Homo sapiens: one gene and its partner. The protein of the gene in region 1 purifies or fractionates together with the protein of each later gene. This does not show direct contact. Each region holds a gene or a part of one and is shown in the gene's direction. Other genes may lie near its edges.

What was found.
Region 2: the proteins of ZNF302 (region 1) and DMC1 purify together in Homo sapiens (affinity purification with mass spectrometry; 2 studies listed by BioGRID and IntAct, with this or other methods). This does not show direct contact.

What each region holds. Positions count from the first base shown.
Region 1 is NC_000019.10:34,675,957-34,679,869, forward strand, and holds the start of ZNF302 (zinc finger protein 302), read left to right. Parts: upstream 1-1,721; 5' UTR 1,722-2,147; intron 2,148-2,780; 5' UTR 2,781-2,848; coding exon 2,849-2,857; intron 2,858-3,871; coding exon of another isoform or gene 3,872-3,913. UniProt on the Homo sapiens protein: May be involved in transcriptional regulation.
Region 2 is NC_000022.11:38,563,559-38,567,471, reverse strand, and holds part of DMC1 (meiotic recombination protein DMC1/LIM15 homolog), read left to right. Parts: intron 1-735; coding exon 736-882; intron 883-3,913. UniProt on the Homo sapiens protein: Participates in meiotic recombination, specifically in homologous strand assimilation, which is required for the resolution of meiotic double-strand breaks.

The sequences.
Region 1 (3,913 bases):
GCAGCTCATAAAGGTAGTGCAGACCCAAAGAGCAAAAGAACAAACATCCCACACCTGGGAAGTAGACCCCAGCGCGGTTGCCGCTGGTTGTTCGGGTGGCCCGTTTTTATTCCCTTATTTGGCCCCGCCCACATCCTGCTGATTTGTCCATTTTACAGAGCGCTGATTGGTCTATTTTACAGAGTGCTGTTTGGTCCGTTTTTACAGAGTGCTGACTGGTGCATTTACAAACCTTTAGCTAGACACAGAGCACTGATTGGTGTATTTACAATCCTTCAGCTATACAGAAAAGTTCTCCAAGGCCCCACCTGATCCAGAAGCCCAGCTGGCTTCACCTCTCGGTTATATGCTAATTATATGCATTAGCACGCTAAGAGAAACGCTCATCAGTGCCATGGCAATTTACAAATGCCATGGTAAGGTTCAGAAGTTACCCTGTATGGTTCAAAAAGCTGGGAAGCCCTCAGCTCCGAGAAATTGAAATTGCCCACCTCTTTCCTGGAAAACTCATGAATAATCCACCCTTGTTTAGCACATCATCAAGCAATAAATACAAGTATCCCTAGTCCAGCAGCCCAAGCTGCTGCTCTAACAATGGAGTACCCATTGTTTCTTTACTTTCTTAATACACTTGCTTTGGCTTTGCACTGTGCTCTCCCATGGATTTTTTCTTGCGTGAGCTCTAAGAACTCTCTCTTGGGGTCGGATCCGGACCCCTTTCTGGTAACAGAAGCACTGCTTCACGAAGATCATGCAGGTCAGTACTTAATAAGTACAAAAAAGTCTATAGCGACACTATTTATAATTTTAAAAATGATTGAAGTCAATTAACATTTAAGTGTTAAAAAGAAAGTAAACAACCCAAATATACACAAACAGTAGACTGCTCTGGCTTGCATACAGAGAGGTCCATTGCCCTTTTGGGTGGGCCTAAGAAGCACTTCTGGGGAGAGGGGGCGTCAGGCTGTGATGGCTGCGGGAGGAGTGACTCCTCCCAGGATGAGGGTCTCCATCCTCCCAGTGCTCACTCAAGTTCAGTATTTCCAAGTCCTTCCAGGGGCGTAACGCACGTCAGAACGGCCATTAGTGTCACAGATACGTGTCCCCTTGCATTTCCAGGAAATGCCCTTGGTTGGCGAACTACAGTCGTGACAGTCGGGCCACAGGGCGTTTTGTGAGTTATCGTCTTGGGCAAATGAGTGCCAAAAAAAAAAAAAAAAAAAGACCTGAAGGTGAACAGCATAGCGGCAGGGTTTGGGATGAGAGGAGCCCCTTTGCTAGCAACGGCGAGCACTTGCGCGGTACCAGCAAGGGCTGCCCATGTCTCGGAGGGAAACGTTTGTGTGAGCGCAGGAATGACCCGGAAGACCTTGGCACGGCTGCAGTTTTCTGGGAAATGTAATTTCTTGGTCCGGGCGCCATGGCCCTTATAAGTAGAGGGTGTCCCTTGGTTTCGAGTTGTATCGTTCACCAGAGGACGACTGTGTGCCCCAGGACAATTTGCGCATGGTCCTAGCTGGCCGGCTCTAGGTCGACGGCCCCAGGCGGTTAAGCTACTTACAAAGCCGTGACCGGTTTGCCCGCGGCGCACCAGGTCCGCGCAGCCGCAGAGACCCTTGGGAAGTGTGGTCTTCGGGTGCCGGCGGTTCGCGGCTTCCGGGACATTTGTACCGCAGGGGGAGGATTCTGGGAAATGTGGTTCGCCGTGGGCGGTGCACTGGGTCAGTCCCGCGATAGCTTCAGGCCTGGCGGCGGCTTCCAAGCTAAGGAACGGTTTGGGGCAGTGTCGTTCCCGGAGGTCGGCCGCCGTTACCCGCTCACCAGCTACGCGGCGCGTCAGGTCCGCGGAGGCGCGGGCTCGGGGCGCCTGCGGGACGGTGAGGCCCTGCTGAGGACTCCGGCAAGTGTGGGTCGCGGCGACGGCGGGGCTAAGGCCCTGGGTCCGCGCGCGGTTTGACCACGGCCGGGGCCTTGGGCATTTCCTGGCCTTCCTGTTGAGCCGTGTAAACGCGGGGTGATGACGGCGCCGACCTCTTGGCACTGTTGTGAGAGCGAAGTGGGCGCGAGAGCAGACGCCAGCTACAGTTTTTTTTGGGTTATGTCGTCATGAAGCCGGCGCTTTCAGTTGTGCAACCTTGAACAAATGGGTTCAGTATCTCGGAATTTCAGTTTTGTCTTCATTTTAAAAAATAAATCTGGTTTAGAACTCGACCTCAAGCGATCCGCCCGCCTCCGCCTTCCGAAGTGCTGGGATTAAAGGCGTAAGCCACCGCACCAGCCTAACGAACATGGCGAAACGCCGTCTCTACTAAAAATACAAAAAAAAATTAGCTGGGCGTGGTGGCACGTGTCTATAATCCCAGCTATTCGAGAGGTTGAGGTAGGAGAATCGCTTCAACCCGGGAGGCAGAGGTTGCAGTGAGTCGAGGTCGCTCCATTGCACTCCAGCCTGGAGACAGAACGAGACTCCGTCTCAAAAAAAAAAAAAAAAAAATCTGGAATAATATGAATGCACACCTTGCAAAGTGGTGAAGACTGAACGAGCTGATAAAGTTGTTACCGTTGTTTTATGAGTCTTTTGTATACAGAATAATTGATTTTCCCCGCAGGTGGCACCTGGTAAATAGCCCTTGCGGAGAAACACCCTGTTCCTTCCCAGGGAGAGATTGACGCTCCGGCGAGTGATTACCAGTGTGCTTTTCCATTAAGGTGTGTGACAGGTGCCGCAAGATAAGCCCGATTTTTCATGACTGCTTTTTCCTGCCTTTCTGTGCCCTCAGGACACTGCCCATCTCTAAGATAAGAACCTGGAAAGGGGACTCTGTTGGCCATTGGAAATTGCAGAATAATGTCTCAGGTAAGTCGGTGTGTCCCCAAATCTTCCTGAAACACTTTATTAGGCCTCTGTGTGTTTGCTTTGCTTCTCCTGCCTGTTCCCACCTAATCAAGTCCATTTAAGGGACTAGATCTATGGTTCCTTTCACTATAGGAAGAATGGAGCCCACAGGAGAGCTCCAAGGTATTGTCCTCATCACCCAGTGTTCCTCTTTTCTACAGTTTTCTGCTAGAAGACTTTCTAGATTGCCAACATTTTAAAACTGTAATTCACAATGCAACTTTGGAATGTAAGGTTATTCGGTTTATGGTTGTCAAAACTGTACCATGTGGTCTCAAGTGAAGAGATGTTTGGAGTCATCCTTGATTCTTCCTTTTGACTTATAACTCATATTCAGGTCCTCTAGTTTGGATCTAAACGATACACCGTATACAGCATCTGACCATTAGTTAGCCCATCACCACCACCACCACTACCACCCCAGTCCGAGCCACCTGGATTATTGCGGTAGCCTCCTAGCTGGATTCCCAGCATCTGCCCTTAACCCTCATCAGTCTGTTCTCAGTACAGCTGTGACCATGGTCCTATTGTTATATAAATTCCTGTCATTCCGCAACCTAAAATTTTTCAGTGGTTCTAACTGAGTCACTTCTGCAATGACCTATTTGTACAATTAGGCCATTACCTCCCTGATCCCACCTTCCTTCTCTGCCTCCTCATTCCTGTGCGCTCCAGCCTCTGTCACCAGTTGCTGTGCCATCCACGTGGAATATTCTTCCCCCACATACGCACAAGCTTGCATCCTTATCTCCTTCTGTGTTTGTTCCGTGGTTACTTTCTCAGAACAGCTTCCCTGAAAGCCTATTTGCAATTGCAGTCACCTTCCCTAGCGCTTCCACTCCTCCATCACTGCTTTGTTGTTTTCCACAGTGTGTGTCACTCACTAGCTGATGTACTGTATGTTCAGTATATGCACGTGCTCATTGTCTGTTCCTGGTGGGAGGAATGCTTTTTCTTCTTTGTTGACTGTTATAGCGTCAGTACCCAGAGTGTTACCTGGCACCAAATGGATGCTTA
Region 2 (3,913 bases), on another chromosome or scaffold:
ATTGTAGGGTGTTTGCAACATCCTTGGCCTCTACTCACTCACTGCATGTCAGTAGCACCCCTGCAGCTGTGACAATCAAAATGTCTCCAGACATTGTCAAGTGTATCCAGAGGACAAAATTAAGTTCTATATGTCAGGCGACTGGAATAAATGATGTTGGCAGAAATCCAGCCTTTGAATAATGACCTGGGTGGATTTCAACAGCAATCAGTTGATAGTAAAACTGTGCTGACATTATCTGTTGTAGCCCTAACATTTAATCTCTTTCAGTGGTTTTAGAAAATAGAAGCAAGAGAAAATCCTGGTCCTTTGGTGATGTAGTTATTTGCATTCTCCAGGGGCAGAGGAAAAAAAAAATCTTTACAAATTTAAAAGAACATGTTGGTAATGAAGTTCTGTAGAAGGAAGGAGCTGAACTGAGGGGGTGAATGTGTGATAAATTTGTTAGCTTTTCCACCAACAGGCTTTTCTTTTGAATTCCTTGTTACATTGCCATGGTCTCACTAACATTCTTGGGAAATCAGGGCACAGTCAGAACATTTGGCAGCCTGCTGAGTATGTTCTACTCAGATATTTCCAGAACATTTGGCTACATGGTGGGTGGGTTCCACCTGGCAGCTTGTATAAAATTGGCATCATGGTGGAAGGAGATGGACACAGAAACACATGACATAGTATGGGAGCCTTGCAGGCTGGCATCTTATCAGTCTGCTGTGCCCATTCTTTAATTTACAGAACGTGGCTGACATTAAGAAACTGAAATCAGTAGGAATCTGTACCATCAAAGGTATACAGATGACAACAAGAAGAGCTCTATGCAATGTCAAAGGACTCTCAGAAGCCAAAGTAGACAAGATTAAAGAGGCAGCGAACAAACTAATTGTAAGCAAAATCCATTCTTTGCTGTTTTAGCTTGGCAGGGCCTTGTGAATCTTTATAGGCTTTCTCATGAAAACTAGAAATTATTGTGGGAACTGAGTTCCTGTAGATCACAGTATATTATACTCCCCATGTTAACTTTTTATCACTTCAGTTTCAAAGCAACAGCAATTGATTTCTGAAAGATGAAGGTAGGGATTAAGAGACCTGGAACACTAATGAAGGTAATTATTTTTGCCAAAACTTTTTGTCTCTCTTTATATTACTTTTTCTGGCTGTCTCTGCCTTTCCTTCTCCTTTCCTTTTTTTTTTTTTTTTCTGAGACAGAGTCTTGCTCTGTCGCCAGGCCAGAGTGCAGTGGCGTGATCTCAGCTCACTGCAACCTCCACCTCCGGGGTTCAAGCGAGTCTCCTGCCTCAGCCTCCTGAGTAGCTGGGACTACAGGCACACAGCACCACGCCCAGCTAATTTTGTATTTTTAGTAGAGACGAGGTTTCACCATGTTGGCCAAGATGGTCTCAATTTCCTGACCTCGTGATCTGCCTGCCCTGGCCTCCCAAAGTGCTGGGATTACAGGCATGAGCCACCATGCTCGGCCTTCATTTTTATTTTTTACCTTTCTCCTCCTCAGTTTTGTCTTGTCTCCTCAAATATCATACCTATGGCTGTTGTGAAGCACTGAGTACCAAAGAAGTTGCTCTCTCCTGGTATAGGAGATTGATATATAGCCAATTGATATAGCCAATTGATAAGAGAGCACTGGATTAGAAAAAGACCAACAGTGGTTGGGTCTACATATGTGCAGTTGAGATAGATATGACCAAGCATGTGCTCACTGAAGCAGCTGAGCTAAGCTAACCCATACTGATGCAGGGCAGGTGAGCCCCCAAATTGAGGCTTAACCTGGGAGGGTTCTTGGCTTTGCCCAAAGGTGAGCCAGTGGTGTTGGACAGCAACTTTTGTTGAAGCAGCCCAGTACAGTGCAGCAGAGGTACTGCTCCTTGCAGAGCAGGGCTACCTCATAGGCAGTATGCCCAGAAGTAGCAGCTCAGAGGCAGTTTTGCCATTATAGTTATACCCACTTTTAATTACGTGCAAATTAAGGGGCAGTTTATGCATAAATTTCTAGAAAAAGTGGTAATTTCTGGGTCATTGGGTCATTGCAATGGAAAGGGGCAGTAACTTCCAGGTGTTGCCATAGCAATGGTAAACTGACATGGCACATTGGTGGGCCATGTCTTATGGAAAGTTGCTTCTGCCCTGGACCCTGTTTTAGCTAGTTCTCAATTTGGTCTGGTGTCTGAGCCCCACCTCTGGAGTCAAATCCCCTCTCCTACCTTACTACTTTCTAGCAGGGCCCACTGACTGTGAGGGGCCTTTGCAACTGCCAGGCTGCCAGACAAAAGCCTATATACCTTTGACCCAAGCTTTTATGTAGAGCTTTTGGGAATCACTAGAGGTACCAGCTCTTGAAATAGGAAAGCAAAGAAAGGTAGTCACTAAGTCTTCCTCTTCATTTAATAGCAGGCCTCTCCATTTCTCTATTGGTATGTGAGGGTCTCATTCCCAGTGAGTCTGAGAAGCTCTCTTCACCAACGGCCATTTGGTTTCCTTCTTCAGAGGCAGCCAAGGCAGGAGAGTGATGCAAGTGGCAGTGTGATCCTGAACTTGGAGGGGACTCAACCGAACTGAATCACTCTGAACCCAGCTCAGTTGCTCTAGCTTCTGAGTACACTCAGGCAGTGTACCCACAAGTCAATTCCACAACTGCCAGGGTGTTGAAGAAAGCCCTGGAGCAGTACTCAGGGTTTGGGAAACTGCTCTATGACATTAGAGTTGTTTTCTTTGGAAATTAAATCTTATTACCAAAGAAAAGAACCTCTCTCTTTCTCAAGCACCCACTACTGCACCAAGAATCTTCTCCTTTCTTAGCTTAAACTGTTTATTCTTTTTTATTTGTATTTTTTAAGAGACGGGTATCAGGCCAGGTGCAGTGGCTTACGCCTGTAATCCCAGCACTTTGGGAGGCTGAGGCGGGCGGATCATGAGGTCAGGAGTTCAAGACCAACATAGTGGCCAACATAGTGAAACCCTGTCTCTACTAAAAATACAAAAATTAGCCAGGCATGGTGGCAGGTGCCTGTAGTCCCAGCTACTTGGGAGGCTGAGACAGGAGAATCACTTGAAACTGAGAGGCAGAGGTTGCAGTGAGGCAAGATCACGCCACTACGCTCCAGCCTGGGTGACACAGCGAGACTCTGTCTCAAAAGAAAAAAAAAGAGAGAGAGAGAAGGGTATCTCACTATGTTGCCCAGTCTGGGCTTGAACTCCTGGGTTCAAGTGATCCTCCTGCCTCTGCTTCTGAAGTACATGGGACTACAGGAATATGCCACTGTGCCCAGTTTTATTTATTCATTTATTTTTGAGACAAGGTCTCACTCTATCACCCTGGCTGGAGTACAGTGGCTCAATCACAGTTCACTGTGGCCTTGACCTCCCAGGCTCAAGCGATCCTCCCACCTCAGCCTCCTCAGTAGCTAGGACTACAGGCATATGCTACCATGTCCAGCTAATTTTTAAAAATTTTTGTGGAGGCCGGGCCTGGTGGCTCACGCCTGTAATCCCAGCACTTTGGGAGGCCGAGGCAGGCGGATCATGAGGTCAGGAGATCGAGACCATCCTGGCTAACACAGTGAAACCCTGTCTCTACTAAAAATACAAAAATATTAGCCGGGTGTGGTGGCAGGCGCCTGTAGTCCCAGCTACTCGGGAGGCTGAGTCAGGAGAATGGCGTGAACCCAGGAGGTGGAGCTTGCAGTGAGCTGAGATCGCGCCACTGCACTCCAGCCTGGGCGACAGAGCGAGACTCCATCTCAAAAAAAAAAAAAAATTTGTGGAGATGGGGGAGGGGTGGTCTTACTATATTGGCCAGGCTGGTCTTGAACTGCTGGCATCAAGCAGTCCTCCCGCCTCAGCCTCTCAAAGTGCTGGGATTACAGGTGTGAGCTACTGCACCCAGTTGTTTATTCTTAGA